Linked DNA regions of Homo sapiens: regions 1 and 3 are each linked to region 2. Evidence: fine-mapped expression QTL. A gene starts in region 2. Each other region holds a variant in brackets. All regions are shown on one strand. Distances are from middle to middle.

Region 1 (8,672 bases), 23 kb before region 2:
GCTGGATGTCCTGCAATGCACGGGACACCCCCACACAACAGAGAGCCCACGGTGGCAGAGGTGCCAGGCTGAGGCCCTGTGCAAGAAGACCATGACAAGGCATCAGCCACGAGCCTCTACCCCTGCCGGGAGGACAGGACCAGCTCCTCTCAGCTTTCTCTCCCATGGACCCTAGACTCGGGCGTGGTCCTGGCTTCGACATGAAGCCCCAGGCACTGGGCAGGACTGGAAGGAATGGCTGAGCGGCCCACTCATCCAGCAGCCACCCAGCCTCCACACCTGACAGTCTGCTATCCAGTCAGCCTCCACCCACAAGGAGGGGACAGCGTGACAGGGAAGTGAGGAAGAGAATCACCGTGGACAGACGGTGACATCTGCCAGAGCCCACAGAGACGCGAGAACAGACTCAGCGCAGAGCCTGAGTGGGGCCCTCCAGCCCCTTCCTTGTCCCTAAGAGGCATCTTCCTCAGGGGCTGGTGGAGCTGCCATGAAAGCAAACGCACAGCCAAACCCCGGGTGGGGGGAAGGCAAACTGCAAACGCCGCGGCGACCCCGGCACAGCAGCCCTGTCAGCAGGATTCCCCCGAGAGCGGGGTAATTGCGGTGGGAACGAGCGCTCCAAAGGCCCTGGGGAGATGATTTCAGGGAAAAGTGGCCTTGATCCCTGAGTCAGGCAGATGCGGCCATGGGAACCATCCACCCCGAGGCTGGAGGGGAGACTCCGCCGGTGGCTAAAGCCATCCTGCTGACGGGGCCCAGGGACGCCCCCAGTGGCCAAACGCACGTGGGAACGGGATCTTCCCCCTCCTCTGTGATGCGGCCAACCCTCCAAGCCTCTGGCTCCTGACTCAGAGGACGATGTCTCCCCATGAACGCAGTGTCCCTGGAGAGAAGAGCCTGCCCAGCGTGGGGAACATGGGAATGTGGAGATGGAGGGCATCCCGGAACCTCAGGGCTGACGGGCCCCTGCCCCAGCCCTGGAAACACCTCAGGGACAAGAGAGTCACTCCTCAAGCGCGGACTTTCCACTGTGCTGGGGCCTTCCGCCTTCCAACCACTCTGGCCCCTTGGGGCTCTAGGTGGAGTGTGCTGAACAGTGTCCCCAAAATTCACGTCCAGTGGAGCTGCGGGATGTGTCCTAGCTGCAAATGCGGTCTCCGCAGGTGCAATTAGCGAAGGACCTTGAGATGAGATCATCCCGGATTAGAGTAGGCACTAAGGCCGACGACAAGTGTCCTCAGCGACACAGAGACAGATCCAGGGGAGACAGAGCCAGAGCCAGCCCAGGATGCCTGGAGCCACGGGCAGCTGGAAGGGGAAGGTGGCACCTTGGGTCTGGACCTCTGGCTGCCAGGACCAGGACCGTCTGCATGTCTGTTGCTAAAGCCAGTCTGTAGGCATCTGTCACCACACATGAGGGGCCAACCGTGCCACCCAGGGGAGACCTCCCGGCTTCTCAGTGCATCAGGCATGGTCAGGGGCAGGACAGCTGCAGCTCACACCCCACTTCTCAGTCACCAGCCGAGTGCACAGCCAATGGCACCTCATCTAAGAGGGGGCTGTGAGTCCCATGTGGTCAGCACCCTGGAGCTAGCTGCCCTGTGGGCTCAGGGAAGTCGTGCAGTGACCGCCACATGGGTTCAGTCCAGAGCCCAGGCCAGAGTCCATGCCCACCCCACAGAGTCCACGCCCACCCCAGAGTCCATGCCCACTCCAGGCAGAGTCCACGCCCACCCCACAGAGTCCACGCCCACCCCAGAGTCCATGCCCACTCCAGGCAGAGTCCACGCCCACCCCACGGAGTCCACGCCCACCCTAGGCCACGGCGCCGCTTTTCAGATGCCTGTTTCGCTCTGGCCATCTAATGCCTGGGAACCGTGATGGGGCAGGAATTTGGGTTTGGGGGTTCTGGCGGCAACCAGATGGCACTTTTGGACCACCAGCAGTGTCTGTCGGTCTTGGAAACTCATGAAGGAGTGGGCCCTTTGCTTAGAGCTGCCAACCTCACACCAGAAGTAAAAGCTTTTTCCAACTCCACAGGCGGGGAAAGACCCTGAGAACTGTCCCCAGCACAGGGCTGTGGCTGCCCTGGCCTCTGTCCATGCGTCTGACGAAGGGCACCGGGAGGTGAAGGCCGCGGGAAAACAAGCCCCGCTCCCGTCCTTTGATTCTGTCCCAGCACACGGCACCGGCAGAGCCCCAGCTTCCCCAGCCTGTCATCCTCCCGAGGCCGACGGCACAGAAGAATGGCAGGCCCAGGACACACTGAGCTCCCAGAGCAAGCGGCGGGTCAAGCATCCTTTATCAACTGCGAGGTCTTCGAGGCCCAAAAGAGGTGCCCTGAGTCGCGAAGTACCCACCCTTGGGGCAGCCAACGCCGCAGCCCTGGCTCCAGGCCCAGGTTGTCCGGAGTGGAGCCACACTCGAGCCTGGCACCAATCTGGGAGCTCCTGAGCGCAATGTCCTGTCTGTCCCTGCATGACCCTGAGACTGTCTGAGATGCCTCACAGAGAGATGCCCTGGAGTCCCCCACAGGCAGGCCAGCCTGGAAGCTTCTCTGGAAAGTGAGCTTTGGCAGCTCGAGGCCGAGCTGTGGCCGACTCCTCCCTTGGTTAACACAGCCTGTACCCAGCTGGGATTCACTTTGAGGCCCTGGGGCTTGCCCTATTTCCTGCCAGGAGAGCGGGGCCCGAAGCTCCATCCTGTCCCC[C/T]AAAACTCAGACGTGGAAGCCCTAACCCCGGTGTGGCTGTACGTGGACATGGGGCCTCTACAGATTAAGGGTAAGTGGGGTCCTCAGGGTGGGGCCTGATCTGACAGGATCCTTGTCCACACAAGAGGAGGCCCCAGACAGCTCACTCTCCCACAAGGAAACACAGCGAGGGGGTGTCTAGGAGCCAGGAGGCCGAGCACCCCGCCCAGGGCATCAGGGTCCCTGGCCTGGCGGGGCCTCTCACCGACTCTCCCGCCGGCATCCAGGTAGCAGGGCCCTGGCACCAGACCCTCTGAAGCTGAGACCCACCCACCCAGGCCTGCTCCGCTCTTGCTGTCACCCCCGGAGAAAGCGGCAGTCAGGGCGTGAGGTGAGGAAAAGGGGCTGTTGGACCCTGCATGGCAGTGGCTCCCGTGCCGGGGACGCGGTGAGCCTGGCCTCCTCCCTGCAAGGGAGGACAGCCCATTTCCCAGGGGAAGACACCGAGGCTCAGACACCCTGGCCGGGGGGCGGCAAAACTAGAATCCCAAGGCAGCTGCACATCTAGCACCTGCCCTTGCCCTCTCTCCGGGAGGGCACCCTAGAAGCCCACAGTCCTGATCTGGGGTTCGGAGAGCAGGCTGGGCTGAGCTCTGCTGGGAGCGCCTAGAAGCCCAGCTATGGGTCCACGCACACACTCAGGTGAAGCCAGGCCCAGAAGAAGGAACAGCTCTAAGCCACAGCCCAGGGGGGCTTCTCAGTCCACGAGGCGACCCCTCCACACCCCAGAGCCACAGACAGCCAAGGTGTGGGTGAAACGTTTTTCTCACCAGAACAGCCCAGCAGCTGGGCATGTGCTGTGACCACTGAGGGGGCCTTTGTCAGAAACATCGTCTGGGGGCTGGACGCCCCCACCCACAGGAAGAGGAGACCAAGACAGGGCCGCACACCCCCAGCCAGATGAGGGCCAGATGAGGGAGGCGGCACCTCTTCCTCCAGGAAGCTCCTCAGGAGGGACATCGGGAGGGGCTCAGGGGGCTGCCTTCAAGGAAGCTCAGTGAAGCTCAGAGACCAGTCTGAAAAGGAATGTCCTCCAGACCTCCACCCTCTCAGGATGGACGTGTTACTCAGGAACTGTCCCGTCAGCTTTTCCCGTAACACATGACACCCCACGTGAACCTCCCAAGAGCAGATGGGCCCAGTGCTGTCCACCCGAACGCACCTTGGGAACAGAGGTGTGGGCCTCCCCCCAGCAGCGCATGACCCTGCACACTGCACCCAGGGTCACAGTGGGGGTGGGGAGGGACCTGCCCACTGCTCACGGCTGTGGGACCTGGGGCAGGGCACCCCACTTCTCTGAGTCTAAGGGGCCCTACTAGCTGAAGAACCAAAGGAAAACCATCATTTCAAAACTGTCACGTGACACACAAATGCAGGCCCCTGCCCCACAGCCCAGTGGCACACACGTATTTACCGCCTGGGACACGGGACCGTCCAGAAGTGCCCTACTCATAGGTGTAGGTCACATCCAGGGGTCTCGGCCACCGGGACCCAGGGCCCAGCAGCTCAGCAAAGCCATTCAGCCGGGGTCTGAGCCCTGCCCAGGGGAAGCATTTTCCCCTCCTGGGGTGAAGGACAGCAAGAGGCACGCCGCCCTGGCAGGCTGCGGCTTTCTTTCCTTTTTGTGGACAGAGTGAAAGGGCAAATTTGCTCCAGGGGAATACTGACCTCCAACAGTACAATGTGGGAGGAGAAGGAAAAGAAAGTTTTTATGCAACCTTTTTTTTAAATCTGCCCAACTATCCAATCTGTAACTGTTCAAGGAGAGATTAGTTTGTTCTGCCGCTGACGGCTGCAGCCCAAGCAAAGCACAAAGCGCCCCATTGTGTCCTCCAGGAGGGACGTGCTGCTGCTGCTGGGCTGGGACGGCAGAGCCTGTGCCCTCGCTCCCACCCTCCGCCCTGCAGGCGAAGGCCCAGCCACCCTCTCCTTAGGCAACAGCCTGCGAGTGGACTCATGGGACGGTGGGTCAGATCTGAACCCTCATGAGTACTGTCTCCCTTTCGAAAAGGCTGGGACTAACTGTAGAACCTCATGTGACACCTAAGCCTGCGTGTCCCCATGCCCCAGCCTAGGGGCAGCCATGACTCCCCCAAGACGCGGAGGAGGCAAGGGCTCCCGACCACTCAGGCCCCTGCAGAGTCGCCCCTGTCACTCAGCCAGCTGCCCCTCCCAGCCCGCATCTCAGGAAAGGCCCAACCCCTCAGAAGGGCTTTTCTGGTCTGCACCAGGGCCCCGCTTATTCCCCACTGCGACTCTCCCATTCACGTGCCTATGGCTCTCAGGTCCCCCCATGAGCTCTGGATGCGGGGCCATGTTCTCATTGGGACCCGGCATAGATGCGGCACACGGGACAGAAGATGGTTCTGCGGATGGCCAACTGGGAAGGGGTGATTACAAACTTCCCTGACGAGGAGGAAACAGGTCAGCCAAGGCCTACAGGACCCTAGGGCCAGTGCCTTTCCATAGCACAGGGCCCACCTGGGGGCCAAGGGCAGCAAGGAGGAGCCTTTTCAGCCCCAATGGAGCAGGGCACCCAGGGTGCGGGACAGGCAGGAACAGGTGCGTGGGCCAGGCCTGCTCTGCCAGATTTTCGCTGCATTCTCCAGACCCGGAAAGGGCCACTTGCCAGTCGTTGCAAAATTGAGGCCGGAGTCTCTGCCTTGAAGTATCTGGGGGCGCTGCTGCCAGGTGCCAGCGAGGGGAGGGGGCAGCTGCCCAAGGGCTTTGCGTCCACTGGGGGGTATAAAGTTGGACAACTGCTTTGGGAGAAAGGGGTCAACACAATGTATCTTCTAAAAGCAAGGCATTCATCTGGTAACAAAATAAATCTGTTGAAGCCAAACAGGAGACAGGAATTCTGCAGACACTGCACTGTATCCCAAAGCTCAGAAGGGAATTGCTGGGGGGAGCACGGTGGGAGGACGCTTTCAACAGCTAACGGAATTATAAACCTATTATGTATTCAAGTCGAACAAAAGCTCTTTGCTCTCCCTACCGAAATTTGTTTTTACAAAAATCACGTTCCCCTCCTAAATCTTTCCTGGCTATCTGATGAGCGCAGCCAAGCAAAGGCCTTCACGAGCAAAGCACCCCTTCCGTGCCCACTTCTGGGAGGCACAGGATGGATTTGTCTCCTGCCCGTAAAATGTCACTCAGGCCCAACCACCTCCCTGGGCAACTTCTGAGTGCCCGGGAGCCATGGAATGAGCTCGTCTTGCCTTGAGTAAGGTGCCGGAACCTGAGGTCCCAGGAAGGTTCAGAATTGGGACTTCCTGCCAGCCCTGTCCTGCCAGCTCTTGGGTGGCTCTGGTACCCCGGGCGACTCTGAGAATCCCTGGTCAGACACATGCATGGGGGATGGGCTCGAGCTCCTGAAGGATTGACCTGGGCAACCTTCCAGAGCCACCTGGGAATCAAGTGGGACTTCCCCTCGACGATGAGGCAGGTAACTAACACCTGCTGCAGACTTTGTACAGATTGATACATTTGATAAAGACAGTCTGGCCCCAGCCCCTGGAGCTCGCCTCGCTGTGGTGAGGTCAGTATAGCCCGGCACTGCATCCCCCTGCAGGCCCAGGTTACCTGCTTGGTGTGGAGACCCCTCCCCAGCTGCAGCCAGACTTTGTCCTAAGGCGAAGTGCCACGTACAGCCAGCAGGGGGCGCCAGGAGCAAGGCGGAGGCTCAGCTAAAGCTGCGTGCTGGGTGCTGGGTGCTGCGGGGCACTGTTCAGTTCACAGCCCACCAGTGGCACGGTGCACACAGGAGAGCCTCCCAGCCCTGAGGCAGGGCCCCACACAGGAGGAGGCAGCGTCCTTGTGTCTGCATGTTTTGGCCTGGCCGTGCATGGGGGCGGGGCAGCTCACAGCTTGCTGGGTGAGGACCTTCCTGCCTCTAGGAGCAAGGTCCTTGCCCTGTCCTCTGCAGCCCTGGGGTCCTACCTGCCTCCCCTACAGCCATGTGGGACCAGGCAGCCTCTCTGCAGCCATCGGTGACTGCGAGTCACCAGAGCGTGCATCCGCCGGGTGCCTGCACTCAGCGAAAGCTCCACAGCTCCAGGACTGGGATCATCTCTACCTGAGGCTCTGGGAGAGAAGAGAAGGAGGCCAGCTCCTAACTGCTCTGCTCCTAGGCTGGCTCCAACATGGATGGAGACAAACTCAGAAGGAACTGCAGACAGAGGCATCCCTGCTGGACTCAAGCAACAGGGCCCCCCACTTCAACTGTACCCAACCACGGGTGGGATCCAGTGCCAAGGACAGTGTGTCCCAGGGTCTGTGACCACACAAATGGGAACTGCTTATGAAACCCCAGCCCGACCTCACCGCGGAATGGCAGTGTGGAAAGGGTGGAGGCTCTGCAGGCAGACACAGAACACAGATCTATGGAGTGTGTGTTAAAGGGTCCAGAGACACCCAGCAAAATACCAACTGTGTCAGTCCACGTCAACAGAGAACACAGGTGCAAAGGGGCGGGGGCTGTTTCACACTCACTCTCTTTATTCCTTCTACCAGCCCCAAGAGAAAAAGCAGCTGGGAAAAAGGCTCAGAATCAGTGATTTCCCCAAGATCACACAGCACAAGACCAAAGTCTGGGCCAGCCAGCCTTAAAACCTGTGCGCCAGACTGCTCTCACCTGTTCCCGAATGCTAACAGTGGACACGTCTGAGTGATGGGGTTACCACGTTTGTTTTGTTTTCCATGCTTACCTCATCTTCTTTAAAAAGCAGACAGAAACACAGAGACAATCCCACACCTGCCCATGGAATGATGAATGAATCACAGCATGACCAGGAGCATGGCCCCGTCGGGGGTGGGTGAGGGGCGACAGCACGTGGGACTCTGACAGACCCAGGGTGAGATGGCTCGGGTGAGGTCTGCATGGCAGGCATAGCCCCTGCCAGGCCTGGAATGTTCCACATCGCCCCCAGGTGAGGTTACAACGCATCAGCTGGGCTCTCAAGATTCACAGACATCGCAGCGTAAAAAACAAGAAAAACTGCCAGAGCCCCTCCCAGTGGTGGCCACGCTGTCCCACGGGAGCACTCCTGTGTCCCCCTCTGGGTCGGATTTCACTTGCTGGGTGATTTTCCCAGAGGGAAATCTCCACGTTGTACAGCACTGCAGAGCTGCGGACTGGGAGGCACCCGGGGACGGGACCTCATGCCCTGTGAAGGACACACAGGCAAAGCCTCGAGGGGCCGCCGGTGGGGCCTGGGGGACGTACTCACCCTTCCCGATCTGGACGAAGCCCAGCAGGATGATCAGGGCCAGGGCCAGGAGCTTGGCGGCGGCAAAGGCATCCTGGACCCGGGTGGCGGCCTTCACGCTGTAGCAGTTCACGGCCGTGAGCAGCACTGTGGAGACAGAGGGCAGCGGTGAGTTCCACGGGCAGACAGACGCCAGCTCAGGGGTAGGCTGGGAGGTGACGACCCCACCCCCACCCCAGGGCCAGGTCCACCAGAAAAACAAGCTCCTTAAACAGCTCCAGTCCCCTGCCAGCCCTTAGGGCACGTTCTGACTTTCTGAGACCTGTTTTGATAAACTTCGCAGTCCTTTCAGGTCTAAGGGCTGGATCCCAGGTGCCCCTTAAGATCTGCAAGGGACCTTTCCTCACCCCCCACCACACCAGGCCATGGAGTCCCACCTGTAGTCAGGACTTCAAGTGGGGTCACTGCCTCCAGAGACCCAGGTGAGCAAGGTGACCCTGCCACTTGGAAGGCGCCCATTACACCTTTTTGTACCTACTCAGCACCCTGACCTGACTGTGAGACCCACGCACAGCCCGACTGCCGGACTCCATGAGGGCGGGGCCCTTTCCTCAAAGAGGATCTTCTGTGGATTCCAACAGAAGTGGGGTGTCCCGCTTTCCCGGAACTACCTGGCCAGTCACCTGGGGACGGCAGCCTGGGAGGGGCCACAG
Region 2 (9,347 bases):
TTTCACCATGTTGGCCAGGCTGGTCTCGAACTCCTGACTTCAGGTGATCCGCCTGCCTCGGCCTCCCAAGTGCTGGGATTACAGGTGTGAGCCACAGTGCCTGGCTGGTTTGAATTTTTAAATGATGATGAATTCATGTATGACTGATGTGATTTTTATTAGAAAGAGAAAACTAGGCAGCGCCCCATCCTACGTCTCCTTCCTGGTGGCCAATGAAGCATTTCCCACGACTCACTCCTGGCACCAGCAGGAAGTCAGAGACTCAGCACCCAGGGGCTGCTTTTTTTTTTTTGAGACAGGCTTGCTCTGTCACCCAGACTGGAGTGCAGTGGCGGGATCTCAACTCACTGCAACCTCCACATCCCGGAGCATGCCTCAGACTCATAAGCAGCTGGGATTACAGGCGTGAGCCACTCTGCCCGGCTAATTTTTGTATTTTTAGTAGAGATGGGGTTTCACCATGTTGGTCAGGCTGGTCTCGAACTCCTGACCTCGGTAGATCCGCCCGTCTCGGCCTCCCAAAGTGCTGGGATTATAGGCGTGGGCCATCACACCCAGCCAACCAGGGGTTCATTTTTTAAAGATAAGAGTGCAGGCTGCGTAAGCTACTATCCATGTCGTTACATACCGGGCCGACATGTACCTAGGCGGGAGGGAGACTGAACCAGTGAAATTCTAATGACAAAAAAAGAAATCAGAGTCATCCCCTACATTCACATCTCCAACGCCCAGCTGGAAGGCACAGGCTCTCCCCACTGCTGTCCTGCTACGATTTTTCCCGGCTTTGACCTGCATGGTGGTGCGGCTGCTCGACTCAGAGCCTCAGAGAAACCACACAGAGCCCTGCTGAGTCTTGCCCTCGGGGCATTCTCACATTTATGAAGAAATGCCTCCCCCTCCCCCTCCCCCCCAAAGTACGGTGTGGCAGAAAACAGCGCCAACAGGTCCTGCCAGTCAGAAGCCACTCCCCTGATTTCATGGCTCAAGACCCCAACTATAAATTAGCCCTTCCCACCTTGAATGTGTACACACACTATTGAGATGCAGGCCGATCCATGCCATGGGATGAATCTGAGAATTGCCAAGACCCACCTTCCCACGCCACCCAACCAAATCATGTGGCATCTGCTACAAGTGATTTTCCCCCTGAAATCCCACAAGAAAACTATTTTGAGGCCGGGCACGGTGGCTCACGCCTGTAATCCCAGCACTTTGGGAGGCCGAGGCGGGCGGATCACAAGGTCAGGAGATCGAGACCATCCTGGCTAACACGGTGAAACGCCGTCTCTACTAAAAATACAAAAAAAATTACCCGGGCGTAGTGGCGGGCACCTGTAGTCCCAGCTACTCGGGAGGCTGAGCCAGGAGAATGGCATGAACCTGGGAGGCGGGCTTGCGGTGAGCCGAGATCGTGCCACTGTACTCCAGCCTGGGCGACTGAGCGGGACTCAGTGTCAAAAAAAAAAAAAAAAAAGAAAGAAAAAGAAAAAGAAAACTATTTTGAAAAGCAGTTATCTCTGGCCTGGTGAAGAACACACCAGCACCATGCCCACCAAAACAGGAGCCCCATGGCTGTTTCCCAGAGAAACCTGGGACCCGCACGTCCATTCACTGCAACACAGACTGAATCTGCAGCCAAGCTCCGCTCTCTCACTACTGGGAACCCTCAGGGGGGATCCCTTAGCCTAAATCAGCACCAGTCACTACCCGCACACGATGTTATTACTACTGTTTTCTTATGAGTCAGCCCGTGTCACTGATTCCTGACGAGCTGGTGTGGAGAGCAGAAATGAATGATTTTTTTTTTAACTGCAATTTCCTTCTCACCAACCAGTCAGCAATCGGAGCTCTAACAGTAAACCGATTGCTCAGTTACTCCACGTGGGTGCCACGCAAGAGGCTGGGAGTATTGCTCAGCGGGGCCAACGGGAGGGTGGCACTTGCCTAAACCGCTTAAGTGGGGGAATGGAATGCCCACCGAAGGGCAGGGCAGGGACCCTGCTGTCCCGTCACTGAAGATATTCCCAGCCTGTGGGGAGAAGTGTAAAAGAATGAATGAAAGAAACGCACGTGGTTTCTGGGACCAATGACCTTAGCCTAGAACTGCCGGGATGGTCCAGGAACGTAAAGATGTAGAGATGTGGGAGCCAGGGGCGTAGTGATGCAAGGATGCAGGGACCCAGAGACTACGACCTCCCAACCCCCGGCCCGCGCCCCGTACTCACGCACGCAGAGGCAGGCCACGAGCTTGGCTGCCTCCTCGGGCACCGGGCAGGTGGGGAAGAGCGGCTTGAGCAGGTAGGTGGCGAAGACCAGGGCCACGATGTACTGCGATGAAGGCCGGATGATGAGCAGCTCGATCCAGAGCTTGAGGAAGGCGGGCAGCGAGCCGTAGACCTCCAGCATGTAGGCGTAGTCGCCGCCCGATTTGGAGATGGTGGTGCCGAGCTCCGCGTAGCAGAGCGCGCCCACGATGGAGAAGACGCCGCACGCGGCCCACACCACCAGCGCCAGCCCCGGCGAGCCTGCCTCCTTGAGCACGCCCGTGGGCGTCACGAAGATGCCCGAGCCGATAATGGTCCCCACGATGATGGCCACGCCGTTGAGCAGCGTGATGTTCCGCTGCAGGGTCACGCCCTCGCCCTCGCCTGCCGGCGCCGAGCCGTCCGCGCTCTTGGCGGCCAGCATCTTCTCCCGCGCCTCTTCCTTCTCCTCGGCCGCCGGCGCCGCTAGCGCGCGCCGCTTCGGGCCCGCACCCGCCATGCTCTGCGCACCGGCCGGGCCTGGGACACCCGGGAGCCGCGGCCCAGCGAGCAGTGTGCGCGCCGCCCGCCGCCCGCAGCTGCGTCAGGAACCCCGCCCGCGCCGCCTTTTAGGCCCCGGCCCGCCGGCCCCGCCCACCGTCCGCGGCTCCTCCCCGCCCCGTGGCCCGGCCCCGTCCCTCAGCCCCGCCCCCTCGGCCCAGCTCGGAGCACGTGCGTCGTCCGGCCCAGCCTGGCGGGCTATTCCCAGGCCCGCGTGGTCCTCGAAGGCCCCAGTCCTCCTGCGCCATGGAGACCCCGGCCTCGCGACCTCCCCCCTCCCGGCGCCCGCGTCATCCCAGCCCGTCCTCCCGGATGCGCCTGGGCGGGGCCTGGCAGTCAGGGCGCGCCCCTTCACCCACTGGCCCGCAGCCTCTCGTCAAGCCTGGGAGCGGGCAGTGCACCAGGGCTGGCCTGAGGCCAAGGATGGAGTTTGGGGTACCCCCCGAAGGGAACCTAGGCTCCTGTCCCGGATGGGCCGAGGGGATGGAACCGCCCCCACAACCAGCTCCTGGGGCACGGGGGAGGGATGAGAGGATGACCTGAGGGGAAGCTCCTGCAGCCTCCTTCCAGCCTGGGGGCTGCATCAGTGGGGCTGGTGAGCCGCGAACTGGGACGAGGGAAGAACCGAACCGAGGCCACCCAGTAATTCCCATTGTATCCCAAAAGAATCTTGCCAAAGACGGCGATCCGGTGCCCGTAGCTTTGAGAAGCAGTAATAACACAGGCTTTGGGAAGCCAGCAATCTGCCTGAGCTCAATTTAATCAACAGAACCGGGGGTTCGCTGGGAGCCATAAGACCCCCACCCCCAAATCTACCTGGGGAATTCAAAGGCAGGCTTCAGTGTGAAGGGGCTTTAAAGCTTGTTATTCCTAGGGAATGCGAGAGGCATCTTAGCTAAAAAGGGTTGAGAGGTAATTTCAGTTAGAGGCGAGAGCAGGATGCCAAGGCTCCTAGGCCTGGAAATGGGAAGGAATATAAATACTGCCCCGAGATTGACCAGACTGGTGAGCGGCCAAAGACCTGTTCAAAGGGTGTGTGTGGGTCAGGGAGGAAGCTCCTCAGTATCACCCCACCCCGGGGTTCCTTGGCGTGTGTGCAAACGAGTCCTTGGAAGCTCACAGCAGGCATGTGGGGAGGCCTTTGTTCTGGGTGAGCGTTCAGCCTCCCAGGGCAAACACGCAAACACCGGTTGCAGAGCTGGGTGTTCACAGCAAGACAGTCTGCTGGGCAGATGCCTCTGGAATCCACAGAATTCTGAACAATAGCCGTGGTGGAGGGGGGTCAGAATCCCTGTCGTGCTGGGACCTCTAGCTGCAGCCAGGAATGTCCAGGCCCCACCCCAGGGAGGGGGCGGCTGAGGAATGCCAGGGCTTGTCATTCTGGACCTTGCTCGCCCCCCGGTATGTCGGGCATTCCTCTGCGGTGATAAAACCGAGCGAAATCTCAGCAGCCCAGGCAGCCACAGGCGGGGGAGTGCGGAGGTCACACAGATACTAACTTGTAATCTGCCGTCCACATTGCTGGCTGTGGAAGGTGCAGAGACCCCTCCATCTGCCCTATTCTTCCCGCTGTGCCTGCAGAGGGAAGGAGACAGTACCACCATGGCTGGGCAAACTCACCGAGTGCTCACTGAGTCCTCCCCTAGACAGCTTCTTATGCAATAGGGTAGGTGCCAGTTAGAGCCATTTTGCAAATAAGGAAGCTGAGGCTTGGTAGGGTTACCTCGCTTGTCCGGCCAGCAAGTAGCCTGGGAGCTGTCCTTTTGACTCTGAACTTATATGGTACTTTTAATCATTCCACCATTCTTCTTTGAGTAACAAGAAAGGCAACCAACAGTCATACCCCAAAGCATAAAATTACAACCATGATAAGCCAAGGACATGACAGGGTGAGCCAGCGACAGCGACAGGGACCAGGCAGGTCCAGATAGACTTTTCTGAGGTGGTACCTGGAGCTGAGAGCCCAGGGTGAGTGAGAATTAATAAGGGAGGTGCAGGGGTCCCCACCGGCACAGAGGGGGCCCTGCACAGTTGGTGCAAGTCATGGTTGGTGCCCCCAGAGCCAGGCTCCTGGCAAGTGCTGGAGCCCTTAAGCAGGAAGGGTGACAACAGCCATGAGCGTGTTCAAGTCACACAGCTATTACGCCACCTCTGTCGGTTTTTACTGGGTTTTCATATGACAACATTCTAGATTTATCCAGCAAATCTACTCCTCTCAGACGTCCCTGATGCCGGCCCTGAAACGCCTTCGCCTGAAAGCTATGACTCTAGAATCTTAGCAAAGAGTGCCATCTGTTGGAAAGATTCGGCAGCGTTTTGATTTTTACAGAGGCAGGACAATGGTCTTTTCAGCTCCAGTCAGTAATTTATCACATGTTGTGTATTTTCAGAGGTTAAAAAAAAGAAAGAAAGAAAAGAAAAAAAAGTTGTGGCACTCTCGCTTGAGCTGGTTGGGAGAATACTTTCTTTTCTTTTTTTTTTTTTTGAAACGGAGTCTCACTCTGTCACCCAGGCTGGAGTGCAGTGGCACAGTCTCAACTCACTGCAACCTCCGCCTCCCGGGTTCAAGCAATTCTCCTGCCTCAGCCTCCGGAGTAGCTGGGATTACAGGCACCCGCCACCATGCTCGGCTAATTTTTTATTTTTTGTATTTTTAGTAGAATTGGGGTTAGCCAGGATGGTCCCAATCTCCTGATCTCGTGATCCGCCCGCCTCAGCCTCCCAAAGTGCTGGGATTACAGGCGTGAGCCACCACGCCCAGCGCCCTGCAGGTCCTTTTTAAGGCTGTTTGCAACATAAATGAGACGAGGCATCTTCTGCCCCCCTCAGAGCGCCAGCGTGGAGTTGAGCAGGCCACCCTCTCTCACAAGGCGAACCCGTCATTATTTTGTCATTTGGAGCAACTGCAGGGGAGCAGCAAGGCCACAGGGCGAGGGGAGAGAACCCGGTGGATAATCCTTTGTTTTCTAATTATGAGATGAGTCTCGCAGTGCAGGGATTGTGGTTTTCATCTCAGCAAAATATAGGAGTGAGGTCCGGAGCGGATCCTTGCTCTTCCTTTCAACTCGTTCTTTTTCCCAGGAAAACGACTTACCTGGTAAACCCTGTAAACCAAAAATAAAATTCTAAGGGCCACCCCAGACATCTAAACAGACTTCCTCCTCAGCCAGGGCTCTTAACATTTAACCTGAAAGACTGGTTTGGGCCAGGAAGAGAATCGGGGGTTGGACGGCCTCTTTAGACCTCTCCAGCACTAACACCAACACATACTTGAAGTCTATCAGACTTAAAGATTAACATTTTACAGCCTGTTCTCTTTGAAGCCTCCTAGCTAAAAGCTTCATCTGCATGATACAGCTTTCATCTCCACAGCCTCACCACAACCCAAACATTCCTTCCTTCCTTTCTTTCTTTCTTTCTTTCTTTCTTTCTTTCTTTCTTTCTTTCTTTCTTTCTTCCTTCCTTCCTTCCTTCCTTCCTTCCTTCCTTCCTTCCTTCCTTCCTTTCTTTCTCTCTCTCTCTCTCTCTCTCTCTCTTTCTCTCTTTCTCTCTTTCTTTCTTTCTTGTCTCACTTATCGCCCAGGCTAGAGTGTGGTGGCGCGATCTCGGCTCACTGCAAGCTCCGCCTCCTGGGTTCAAGTGATTCTCCTGCCTCAGCCTCCAGAGTAGCTGGGACTACAGGCGCCTGCCACCACGCCCGGCTAATTTTTTTGTATTTTTAGTACAAACGGGGTTTCACCGTGTTAGTCAGGATGGTCTCCATCTCCTGACCTCGTGATCCGCCCGCCTTGGCCTCCCAGAGTGCTGGGATTACAGGTGTGAGCCACTGTGCCCGGCCTCCAAACATTGCTTTCTACTGATCCCAGGTCTTTTGTGTTTTTCTTTTTTTTTTTGAGACAGAGTCTCACTGTCGCCCTGGCTGGAGTGCAATGGCACGATCTTGGCTCACTGCAACCTCTGCCTCCCGGGATCAAGTGATTCTCCTGCCTCAGCCTCCCGAGTAGCTGGGATTACAGGCACCTGCCACCACACCTGGCTAATTTTTGTATTTTTAGTAGAGGCTGGGTTCCACCAGGTTGACCACGCTGGTCTCGAACTCCTGGTGATCTGCCCACCTCGGCCTCCCAAAGTGCTGGGATTACAGGCGTGAGCCACCATGCTCGGCAACAATCCCAGGTCTTTAGACAACAAACTCAAACAATTGTCAACCAGAAAATGTTTAAATTGGTTGGGCGCGGTGGCTCACACTTGTAATCCCAGCGATTTGGGAACTTTGGGAGGCCGAGGCGGGGGGATCTCGAGGTCATGAGTTAAAGACCAGCCTGGCCAACATGGTGAAACCCCATCTCTACTAAAAATATAAACATTGGCCGAGTGCGGTGGCTCATGCCTGTAATCCCAGCACTTTGGGAGGCCGAAGCAGGCAGATCACTTGAGGTCAGGAGTTTAAGACCAGCCTGGCCAACATGGTGAAACCCCGTCTCTACCAAAAATACAAAAAAATTAGCTGGGCGTGGTGGTGGGCGCCTGTAGTCCCAGCTACTCGGGAGGCTGAGGCAGGAGAATGGCATGAACGTGGGAGGCGGAGGTTGCAGTGACGGGAGATCGCACCACTGCACTCCAGCCTGGGTGACAAAGCGAGACTCCGTCTCAAAAAAAAAATATATATATATATATATATATATATACACACATATATATACACACATATATACACATATATACACACATATATATACACATATATACACACATATATATACATATATGTATATACACATATATACATATATACGTATATATACACATATATACACATATATATACACACACACACATATATATACACACACATATATATATATAAACATCAGCTGGGCGTGTTGGTGCACCGCCTGTAATGGGAGGCTGAGGCAAGAGAATCGCTTGAAACCAGAAGGCAGAGGTTGCAGTGAACCAAGATTGTGCCACTGCACTCCAGCCTGGGTGGAAGAGCGAAACTCTTGTCTCAAAAAAAAAAAAAAAGAAAATGTTTACATTTACCTCTAGCCTGGAAGCCCCCCTCCTGCTTTGAGTTGTCCCGCCTTTCTGAACCAAACCAATGTATTTTTTAAATGTACTTGATTGATGTCTCATGTCTCCTTAAAATGTATAAGACCAAGCTGCACCCCAACCACCTTGGGCACATGCGGTCCGGACCTCCCGAGGCTGTGTCACGGGTGCGCCCTCAACCTTAGCAAAATACGCTTTCTAAATTAAAGGAGGCCTGTCTCAGATTTGCTGGCTTCACAACCCTTAATTGAAGTGGGGCTTCCTGGGGCCGCCTCTCTCCTGTGAGTCCCCTGCCGGGCTGGTTCTCAGTCACAGGGGAGAAATGCCTGCATCTTTTAACATAGCAAGGGTCCTTGCTTCTTCTGGAGGTTGTTTTTGAAAGCCATGCTTTTATTATGCTCAGAGGTGAGCTTTTCCTATCTGCATGCTTGACAAGGTGGGGCTGCCCTGAGTACGATCAGAAATTCCGTTCTGTTTCCAGGCAGATAGGTGTGTAGGGCAGCCACTCAGTCAGTGTTCGGCCTTAAAGACTCTTGCCAGTCAAGGAAGACGACCGAGGCAAGTCTCCGTCATTTTAGCTTTAAATGCCAACATTAGGGACGCGCACCTGAGAGACTGGTCTATGCCTTTCTCCGAAGATGATTTTGAGGGCTTCAATATTGAAAGGGGGAAGGGCAGGATATTGGGCAGTACACAATTTTCATGTGAAGGGGGTAGGGGAAAATTCAAGTTTTTGTCTGGTTTAGTGACTCTGCCGTTTCACGTAAGATACCCTAGACGATAGGGCAGCGGAAACAATGAGATATGCATTTGCTTCAGGTGGGCGGAGGGATGACTCAGTTCTGCCCCTCGTCCCAGCACCTGTGAAGATAAGCTAACGGTTCACATTGCCAGGGTGAACTTTAACAGAAGCGCTTAGGGTAAAGATCTTGGAGCCCACAAGGAATTTCCTTATGGGCAAAATGTGAGGGAGGTGTGTCGCTTTTCATCTTTTTTTTTTTTTTTTTTTGAGACGGAGTCTCACTCTGTCACCAGGCTGGAGTGTAGTGGGTCGATCTCAGCTCACTGCAACCTCTGCCTCCCGGGTTCAACTGATTCTTCTGCCTCAGTCTCCCAAGTAGCTGGGATTACAGGCGCCTGCCACCATGCCCGGCTAAGTTTTGCAGTTTTAGTAGGGACGGGGTTTCATCATGTTGGCCAGGCGGGTCTGGAATTCCTAACCTCAAGTGATCCACCCGCCTTGGCCTCCCAAAGTGCTGGGATTACAGGGGTGAGCCACCAAGCCCAGCCAAACTTTTCATCTCTGTAGCTGTTTGTTAAATAATTAGGAGCCGAAACAGGAGGCTGGTTCCCATGACACGGTCACCAGCTTCACTTTTCCCTTTCGTTAGCAAGTGTGGGGTCCCAGGATTTATGTTCCTTTCACACTCTCTATGCCATTTAATTTTTGCAGCAACTATAGTTAGTTGTCATTTATGGTTGGAGAAAAAG
Region 3 (10,246 bases), 25 kb after region 2:
GCCTCAAGTGATCTGGCTGCCTTGGCCTCTTTAAGTCCTAAAATTATGGGCATGAGCCATGACGCCCAGCCCAAGAGTATAACTTTAAAAAGTGTATACAAATATTATTAATTAATTTTCGAAAAAAAAAAAAGCAATGAAACTATTTAGATAAGAAAAAGGAGGCCGGGCTCGGTGGCTTATGCCTGGAATCCCAGCGCTTTGGGAGGCCAAGGTGGGCAGATCACCTGAGGTCAAGAGTTCAAGACCAGCCTGGCCAACATGGTGAAACTCCGTCTCTACTAAAAATACAAAAATTAGCCAGGCGTGGTGATGGGTGCCTGTAATCCCAGCTATTTGGGAGGCTGAGGCAGGAGAATCGCTTGAACCCAGGAGGTGGAGGTTGTAGTGAGCCGAGATCGCACCACTGCACTCCAGCCTGGGCGATAGAACGAGACTCTGTCTCAAAAAAAAAAAAGGAAAGAAAAGAAAAAGGAAGAAAACAAAAACCATGCAGACCCATGACCCTGGGACAACTCCCATGGATGCCTCGTGTGTCTGTGTGTGATAGATTAGGGCGTTGCTCAGGACATGCTTGCTGTGATCACTGGAACCGCTGTCCAATCTCAACAAGCTCCTACTTCAGTTGGAATTTTCTTCTTGTGTAAGAATGCCCCAAATGCATGAAAGAATATATATAACTCCACAACGCTCTCATGCAGCATCTTAGTGACGCTGCCAAGCAAGAGGGACGCCTTCCATGAAGCGCCATCGTGCCAGTTACGGGCACGGCTCACCTGGCTTGGGGCCACTTCAACGGGCTCCTTCTGGATGATCCAGGTGACCGACTCGGTCAGCGGCGGGGTGGTGAGCGAGCCCGCGTAGGTCCAGTAATCCCAGCAGGTGGGCAGCAGAGTGGAGGGGTCGAAGGGGCGCATGGCCGCCCGCGCGTCCTGAGAGACCGAGAAGCACAGGACGTGTCAGTCCTCAGGGGAGACTAGGAGCTTCCATCTTGTCTCAGCACGTGAGGCCTTCATGGTGCTTGGAAGGAAGTGCTTTCCCCCAGATAAGGCCATGAGGCCACTGCTGTCACACTTGCAAGCAGTGATGAGAAAATGTGACCCTTCTATACAGAGCAAGGATTCCTGCCAACTTACATTGGTGGGAATTACGTTACATTACACCAGCTTACGTTGGTGCTCACATTTTTCCTTTTGAAGTCATTTCTTGGGGCGCAGTAGCTCACCCCTGTAATCTCAGCACTTTGGGAGGCCGAGGCGGGTGCATCACTTGAGGTCAGGAGTTCGAGACCAGCCTGGTCAACGTGGTGAAACCCTGTCTCTACTAAAAATACAAAAATTATCCAGATGTGGTGGTGGGCGCCTGTAGTCCCAGCTACTCAGGAGGCTGAGGCAGGAGAATCGCTTGAGCCCAGGAGGCAGAGGTTGCAGTGAGCCGAGATCATGCCACTGCACTCCAGCCTGGGCAACAGAGTGAGACTCTGTCTCAAATAATAATAATAATAATAATAATAATAATAATAATAATAATAATAAATTAATTAATAATAAAAATAAAAATAAAGCCATTTCTTTTAGCATACCTTGGCTGCAAAAAATATTACTTTTTATTGTGATAAAATATACATAACATAAAATTTACCATCTTAACCTTTTTTTTTTTTTTTTCGAGATGGAGTTTTGCTCTTGTTGCCCAGGCTGGAGTGCAATGGTGTGATCTTGGCTCACCGCAACCTCTGCCTCCCAGGTTCAAGCGATTCTCCTGCCTCAGCCTCCAGCGCCTGCCACCACGCCCAGCTAATTTTTGTATTTTTAGTAGAGACAGGGTCTCACCATGTTAGCCAGGCTGGTCTTGAACTCCTGACCTCGGATGATCCACCCGCCTTGGCCTCCCAAAGTGCTGGGGTGAGCCACTGTGCCCGGCCTATGGGCTCCTTTTTAAGGAGGGAGTCATGGTGGCCAAGAAGGATGTCCACATGCCTAAGCACCCGGAGATGGCAGACAAGAATGTGCCCAACCTTCATGTCACGAAGGCCATGCAGTCTCTCAAGCCCCGAGGCTGCCTGAAGGAACAGTTTGCCTAGAGACATTTCTTTCTTTCTTCCTTTCTTTCTTTCTTTCTTTCTTTTTTTTTTCAGACAGAGTCTCCAGGCTGGAGTGCAGTGGTGCGATCTCAGCTCACTGCAGCCTCTGCTTCCTGGGTTCCAGCGATCCTCCTGCCTCAGCCTCCCTAGTAGCTGGGACTACATCTTCACGCCATCGCGACCAGCTAATTTTTTATATTTTTAGTAGAGACGGGGTTTCACCATATTAGTCAGGATGGTCTCGATCTCCTGACCTCGTGATCTGCCCACCTCGGCCTCCCAAAGTGTTGGGATTACAGGCGTGAGCCACCACGCCCGGCTTGCCTGGAGACATTTCTACTGCTACCTTACCAATGAGGGCATCCAGTATCTCCGTGATTACCTTCATCTGTCCCTGGAAACTGTGCCTGCCACCCTATGCTGCAGCCGTCCAGGGACTGGCAGGCCTCGGCCTAAAGGTCTGGAGGGTGGGCGACCTGCAAGACTCACAAGAGGGGAAGCTGACAGACATACCTACAGACGGAGTGCTGTGCCCCTGGTGCCGACAAGATAGCCGAGGCTCGGGCTGGGTCAGCAACCGAATTCCAGTTTAAAGGCAGATTTGGTCGTGGACATGGCCAGCTACCTCAGTAAAATCAGAGAGGATTATTTTGCATTGAATACACTCACAGCCAAAAAACAAAAAGAGTCAGGGTCTTACTTTGTCACCCAGGCAGGAGTGCAATGATGCCATCATAGCTCACTGCAGGCTCTAATTCCTGGGCTCAAGCGATCCCCCCGCCTCAGTTTCCCAAGTAGCTAGGACACCACACCAGGGTTTAAAATTAATTGTTTGTAGCCAGGGGGTCTTGCCATCTTGCCCAAGCTGTTCTCCAACTCCTGGGCTCAAGCGATCCTCCTGCCTTGGCTTCTCAAAATATTGGGATTACAGGCATAAGCCACTGTGCCCAGCCAGCTCTTTTGGATATATACCCAGAAGTGTGTGATTGCTGAATCATAGGGTAGTTCTATTTATAACTTTTTATTTTTTTTATTTTTTTTGAGGCAGAGTCTCACTCTGTCTTCCAGGCTGGAGTGCCGTGGCATGATCTCAGCTCACGGTGGTTGGGCCTGGCCGCAACACAGCCCTCATCAGCGTCCCATGCCAACCAAGCATAGCTCTGCACCTGCCCCTGGCCAGCACTGTGGGACAAGAGTCCAGTCCAAAGTGACAGAGTCCCTGTCTGCAAGGAAGATGGCCTCCCTGCTCAGCCACATCACATCACCTTGACTTTGCTGGGCCCTGGCCTTCCAAGGTGGAAGCTGGCAACCCAGATGCCTTGGGCTTGTCTCCTAACATCAAGCAGTGAGGGTCAGGGTCAAGAGAGGTGGCTGAGCTACCAGAAGGAAGCCCGGGAGTGTCCACACTGGCAGACACATGCATCAGTTCTATGCACGCATGTTCACGTTTATAATTATCCAGTTAATTAAAAAAAAAAAAACAGCATTATAGGCTGGGCACAGTGGCTCATGCCTGTAATCGCAGCATTTTGGGAGGCCAAGGCAGGCAGATCACCTGAAGTCAGGAGTTCAAGACCAGCCTGACCAACATGGCGAAACCCCATCTCTACTAAAAATACAAAAATTAGCCAGGCATGGTGGCAGGTGCCTGTCATCGCAGCTGCTCGGGAGACTGAGACACAGGAACTGCTTTGGCACAGGATGCAGAGGTTGCAGTGAGCCGAGATGGCACCATTGCACTCCAGCCTGGGCAACAGAGAGAGAGACTCTGTCTCAAACAACAGCAGCAGCAGCAAAACCCACAGCATTATTGTGATAGAATTCACATACCATGCAACTCTCCCATCTAAAGTGTACAGCCTGGTTGGGCGCAATGGATCATGTCTGTAATCCCAGCACTTTGGGAGGCCGATGTGGGAGGACTGCTTGAGGCCAGGAGTTTGAGACCAGCCTAAGCAACATAACGAGACCCTGACTCTACAAAAAATACAAAAACTAGCCAGGTGCAGTGGTGCACGCCTGTGGTCCCAGGTAGTTGGGAGGCTGAGGTGGGAGGATGGCTTGAGCCCCGGAGGTTGAGGCTGCAGTGAGCTGTGATCATACCACTGCACTCTAGCCTCGGTGACGGAGTGAGATCCTTTCTTAAAATAAGTAAATAGGCTGGGCACGGTGGCTCACGCCTGTAATCCCAGCACTTTGGGAGGCCGAGGCGGATGGATCACCTGAGGTCAGGAGTTCGAGACCAGCCTGACCAACATGGCGAAACCATGTCTCTACTAAAAATACAAAATTAGCCAGGCGTGGTGGCGCATGCCTGTAATCCCAGCTACTCGGGAGGCTGAGGCAGGAGAATCACTTAAACCCGGGAGGCAGAGGTTGCAGTGAGCTGAGCTCATGCCATTGCACTCCAGCCTGGGCAACAAGAGTGAAACTCCATCTCAAAAAGAAAACAAAAAACAAAAAACAAAAAAAGTAAATAAAAATTGAAGGGTACAGTTCTATGGTTTTGGGTATATTCACAGTTGTGCAGCCATCCCAAGTCAATTTTAGAACTTCCACCTCAAGGGGGAAGCTTGGTACTTTTTAGCTATGGTCCCCACCCCCGCCCTGCTGCTTCTGTCTCTGTGGGTTTCATAGGAACTGAGTCATGTAACATGTGGAACATTTGTGTCTTGTGTCTCTCACTCAGCACGGCGCTTTTGAGGCTCACCCACACCGCAGCATGAGTTAGAGCTGTGTCCTTTCTGATTGCCAAGTAATATCTCACTGCATGGTCTAGCTGGGTTGACATCCCATTGCACGCTCTAGCTGGGCTGTGAAGGAGCAGACTGCTTGTGCATGTGGGTAACAGGCGGGTGTGCAGTGAGACATCAGTCTGGTGCACGTGGGTAACAGGCGGGTGTGCAGTGAGACGTCCGTCTCCTCCTGCCTGCCACACATCCCCAGGGCACAGATGTGCCAGTCACTTTCTGAGCAACTACTTCAAATCTTCAGAACAACCCTTTGAGAAGTATTTCTAGTTTACTGATGAAGATAGACAGACAGATATAAAAAACTTGCCCAAAGCCACGTTGCCAGTCAGGGCCACTGAGGCCTGGCCCGTTCCGAGGTGCGGGCTCTTCCTTCCCTCCCCAAGGCTGCAGGAATCAGTCAGGGGAGTGGCAGGCTCCAGCCATGCCACTGCGGGTAGGTTTCTTGCCAATTAAGCTTTCTGCCTTGGGCTGAGAAGAGGATGCCTGTGTGTTGCCTCATCGTCCCCAGGAGTTCCTGTCCTGTCTCTAAGATGCATGAGGGCTGGAGCAGCCATGTGGTTACAGAAAACTGCTCCCCCTCAGGGCCCCCAAAGCAAATCAGGGCCCTTCCTTTATGCATGTGGTGATCCTCAGGCAGCTAGAATGGGACACCGGTGAGCACACCAATGAGGCTGAAGACCATCACATCCATTATCTGAGCACGGATGGCCCAGCTACCTGTGGAAAGCACCACAAGCCTTTGCTGGTGGAAGTGGGTTGGTGACTTGTTCCACTTTTCTTTTATTTATTTATT[G/T]TTTTTGAGACAGAGTTTCACTCTTGTTGCTCAGGCTGGAGTGCAATGGCACGATCTCGGCTCACCACAACCTCCACCGCCCAGGTTCAAGCGATTCTCCTGCCTTAGCCTCCCTAGTAGCTGGGATTACACGCATGCGCCATCACGCCTGGCTACTTTTCTGTTTTTAATAGAGATGGGGTTTCTCTATGTTGGTCAGGCTCGTCTCAAACTCCTGACCTCAGGTGATCCGCCCGCCTCAGCCTCCCACAGTGCTGGGATTATAGGCGTGAGCCACGCTCTGTTCCTGGTTTTGTCTTCTTTCTCTTAAACAGGACCCCACATTTTATGAGCGTCAAGCCCCACCCAGCCTAACTCCGCCCTTGCTTTGTCCTCTTAGAGTCTCAGTTTCCCCAGGTGTACGACAGGCAGTGTGGTGGCGGTAATGGGCTTCCATCAGTGCCTGCCACGTGGGCGTGGGGCTCAGTAGGTGCTGCCGCTGCTGCTGCCAAAGCTAGAAGAGCCCCCACAGGGCACAGAGCCGTTCCCTGGATCCCCTGGACCTGGTGGGCTGTTTCCACCTCCACAAGGCAGCCAATTCCCCGGTAGCTCTGACTGTTGCGAAGGCAGGGAGGAGGGGGGACCCCAGCAGCCTGAGGAGCTTGCGGCTTGTCCAGGCATGGAGGGTGGGGACCCTCTGTGGGCAGTTTTTGCCAAAACTTCTGGCTATGGTGAGAGGGTCAAAGGCGAAGCCTTGAGGTCTCCATTCTGGAATTGTCTGCCCGGGGTCACCAGGACCACACTGGGGCTGTGCCTGCGTGCTGGGAGCTGAGTGCATAGTGACAGGTCGGCACTGGTAGGGGCCTGTGCAGATGGGATGGTGCTGGGGGTGGGGGTGGGGGTCCAGGCTTCCAGGCAGCGCCTGATGTGGTTTTGGTTACAGACACTGCCTGTGTTTCCCTCTAAGCTGCTGAAAAGCTCAGAAATGTGCAGCAGGGGCTGGAGCTCAGCCTGGGTTCTGACTGCATGCGGGAGGTGGGCGCCAGGATGACTGGGACTTCAGGCTGCGTGGACCCACTTCCTGGGTTTAAAAACGGGCTCTTCACCTGCCAGCTGTGTGCTCGGGCAAGGCCTTCTCTGCCTCTCTGAGCTTTGGTTTTCCTGTGTGTGCAAGACAGATGAATCACAGGCCCTGCCCCGTGGAGTGATTGGAAGATTCAGTGTGATAATTTATGTGGAGGGCTGTCGCTTCTTTGAACCCCTTCCGCCGAGGTGTAGGGTGATGTCCCCTTGCCCTGAGCCTGGGCAGGTGCTCCTGACGGGAGTGGTAAACAGGATGCCGCAGGAGCAGTGCTTTGTGACTCTGGAAGCCAGGGCAGAAAAGGACATCGTGTCCATCTGGCTCTTTCTGGAAATGCACCCTTGGAGCCCTGAGCACTGCATAGAAGCCAGCTGGGTCCCCAGGGAGTGACCGTGGCAGGCATTCCTGGAGGGTCTCTGCCGAGTCAGTCCCACAGCAGGGCCCGGACCAGCCTGGAACCAGGAGAGATGATGGGGACTACGTGACTCTGGTCTTTCCTGCCCTAATTCAGGACAACTTGTTCCTTAACTGGAGGAAACCAGGAAAGCAGCCCAGAAGCTGCAGGTGAGCCCGTCCCTGGGTGAGAACTGCTGAGTCCGCGGGGGAGTGGCAGAGCTGGGATTTGAAGCCAAGGCCATCTGCCCTTGAGCCTGAGGCCACCATGGCCCTGTCCTGCCCTGCACTGCCCACCAATCAGGAATTAGATTCAACCACACTTCTAGCATTTTCCATCACAAGGCCATCATTCTAAAATTTCATGGGCTCCCAGAAGGTAATAGCTCTCTCTGGGAATCACCTGACAGAAAGCACCCGCAGCAACAAAAAGCGATTTTAACCTTAGTGATTGGGCTGGTGGATTTTCGTTTCGTGACGGGCAGCAGCAGCCTGTGCCTTCCACAGCAGACTTGAGTGTGTGAGTGTTGGCCACAGCTGGGCCTTAAACTCAACTGCACATTTCACCAAGAACCAGACATGCTCCTTATTCCATTACATGGTGAGAATGCTGCTCTAGTGTGGATTTTTTTTTTTTTTTTTTTTTTGGAGACGGATTCTCGAGCTGTCACCCAGACTGGAGTGCAGTGGCACGATCTCGGCTCACTGCAACCTCCGTCTCCTGGGTTCAAGCGATTCTCCTGCCTCAGCCTCCTGAGTAGCTGGGATTACAGGAGTGTGCCACGATACCCAGCTAATTTTTGTATTTTTAGTAGAGACGGGGTTTTGCCATGTTGGCCAGGCTGGTCTTGAACTCCTGACCTCAGGTGATCTATTCACCTCAGTCTCCCTAAGTGCTGGGGTTACATGTGTGAGCCACCATACCTGGGCTACTGTGGATGTTTAATATCTCCATTTCACAGGCGAGGAAGCTGAGGCTCAGAGGTGCGCAGCTCAGGAGTGGTGGATCTGGGCTCTGAACCCAGGAGTCCAACTGTGGGGCTCTCTGATACACTGTGCTATGGGAGAAGCTCCCAGAAGTCCTAGGCTAGGAGCCTCTAGGCGAGAGAGTTGTTCAAGTCTCTTCCCATTCCCTGGCCCATGAAGCACAGACTCTTGCTCCCAAGGCTGGGCCTTTTACCTCCTAAGGTCTTTTTTTTTTTTTTTTTTTTTTTTTTGAGATGAGTCTCGCTGTGTCACTCGGCCTGGAGTGTAGTGGCACAATCTGAGCTCACTGCAACCTCCACCGCCCAGATTCAAGCAATTCTCCTGCCTCAGCCTCCTGAGTAGCTGGGATTACAGGCACCCGCCACCACGCCTGGCTAATTTTTGTATTTTTAGTAGAGATGAGGTTTTATCATGTTGGCCAGGCTGGTTTTGAACACCTGACCTCAAGTGATAAGCCCGCCTTGGCCTCCCAAAGTGCTAGGATTACAGGCGTGAGCCACCGCACCCAGCCTCTTAAGGTCTTTTAATTTCTCAAAGGTCTAACTCGGCCAGGTGCGGTGGTTCACGCCGGTAATCCCAGCAATTTGGGAGGCCAAGGTGGGCAGATCACTTGAGGTCAGGAGTTTGACACCAGCCTGGCCAACATGGTGAAATCCCGTCTCTACTAAAAATACAAAAATTAGCCAGGCATGGTGGTGGGCGCCGGTACTTCCAGCTACTCATGAGGTTGAGGCAGGAGAATCACTTGAACCTGGAAGGCGGAGGTTGCAGTGAGCCGAGGTCGCACCATTGCACTCCAGCCTGGGCAACAGAGCGAGATTTTATCTCAAAAAAAAAAAAAAAAAAAAAAAAAAAAAAAAAGAGTCTAACTCTTTATTTTCAGCTGAGGGGATGAGCCCAGAGATCAGCATCAGGACCAGAGCTCAGTCCGCGGTGGCACTTCCTCCCCTGTCCCGGGCATCATTCCTCCCCTGTGGTTTGCCTAGAAAATTCTGACTTACCCCATGGAGAAGAAATGCTCCAGAACCTTCCCCGGGAGGAAAACAGCCCTTGGGTAAAGGGTCCTTCACAATCAGCTCTTTTCTTTCCCACCAAGAGGTGGGACCACCTGGTGTGGGAGGTGGAGGCTGGCTGGGAAAACAACCCCTGCCCAGGTTTCCTCTGGCTGTGGAGCCGCGTGGAGGAAGAGGATGGGGCGTCAGAGCTCTCAGAACCGTGGCCTTGTGAAGTTCCTGAGCAGGCAGATGGGGCGGCAGGGGGTGATCTGGTCCCAGTCCCAGGAGGCCACCCCGAAGCCAGCATCAAGGCGAAGGCCACGTACAGATCAAACGTCTCCTTGAACCGCGAGGAAGGGCTGGTCCCAGCTCCATCTGGACCAGCCTCCACCATTGTTAACACAGGTTGAAGCCTCATCCGTCCGCACATGTGAGGCTTGCGTTGACTCCTTCTGCCCTGGAATTCTTTTGTATGCTGCTGAATAAATAAACTACATTTCTTTGGAATTTCTCCTTCTCCCTCAAAGCCTTTTCTCAGCTGATCTTGGAGAAAGGCGACACTGTTGTCCCCACCATCTTTTCGAGCTGCGCTGGATACAGGGAAGCCTATGGATCGCTGGGCGGAGAGCTGCGGTTTGGGCAGGTTTCTCTCCGCCCTTGGGCTTGGGGTCGGACAGGGACGTTCAAGGAGAGTGCTGGGTGGTACATGAGTCAACATTCTTAAATGTTATTAGTTAGGGATTTGAGGTTTTTGTTTCAATCTGTTTTAAAACAAACTTTATCATTAGTGAATACCATCACCCAGGACAAGGCTAAAAATTTTTCGAGCTAATCAATTTAAAGAAAAATATTAACTAGGCTGGGCGCGGTGATTCACGCCTGTAATCCCAGCACCTTGGGACGCCAAGGCGGGCGGATCACCTGAAGTCAGCAGTTTGAGACCAGCCAGCCTGGCCAACATGGTGAAACCCCGTCTCTACTAAAAATACAAAAATTAGCTGGGTATGGTGGCGCACACCTATTGTCCCAGCCGCATGGGAGGCTGAGGCAAGAGAATTGCTTGAACCCGGGAGGCGGAGGTTGCAGTGAGCCAAGATCGCGCCACTGCATTCCAGCCTGAGTGACAGAGGGAGACTCCTCGAAAAAATAAAAAAGAAAAGAAAAGAAAAATATTCAGTAGAA

The links. PIP is the estimated chance that this variant, and not a neighbour inherited with it, causes the effect.
Region 1: its variant is the best candidate, but not a certain one, in a credible set for the expression of SLC7A5 in whole blood (TOPMed, PIP 0.90).
Region 3: its variant is the best candidate, but not a certain one, in a credible set for the expression of SLC7A5 in whole blood (INTERVAL, PIP 0.50).

The regions. Positions count from the first base shown.
Region 1 is chr16:87,843,744-87,852,415 of GRCh38, forward strand. SLC7A5 (solute carrier family 7 member 5) reads right to left here. Exons shown (of 10, transcript NM_003486.7): 2 at 7,981-8,106. Among named protein-coding and RNA genes, the nearest start is that of MIR11401, 5.8 kb to the right of the region's middle. RefSeq lists enhancers at 1-673, 5,631-6,537, 6,400-6,694, 6,538-7,443, 8,350-8,672. The variant C/T (reference allele first, on the strand shown) is at 2,711.
Region 2 is chr16:87,866,660-87,876,006 of GRCh38, forward strand. SLC7A5 (solute carrier family 7 member 5) reads right to left here and starts at 2,848. Exons shown (of 10, transcript NM_003486.7): 1 at 2,226-2,848. The coding sequence starts at 2,763. RefSeq lists a silencer at 2,812-3,161, enhancers at 3,402-4,161, 3,606-4,805, 4,162-4,923, 9,335-9,347 and a cis regulatory region at 4,885-5,211.
Region 3 is chr16:87,891,023-87,901,268 of GRCh38, forward strand. It overlaps CA5A (carbonic anhydrase 5A), which reads right to left. Exons shown (of 7, transcript NM_001739.2): 6 at 777-932. Among named protein-coding and RNA genes, the nearest start is that of SLC7A5, 27 kb to the left of the region's middle. RefSeq lists an enhancer at 6,813-7,512. The variant G/T (reference allele first, on the strand shown) is at 5,630.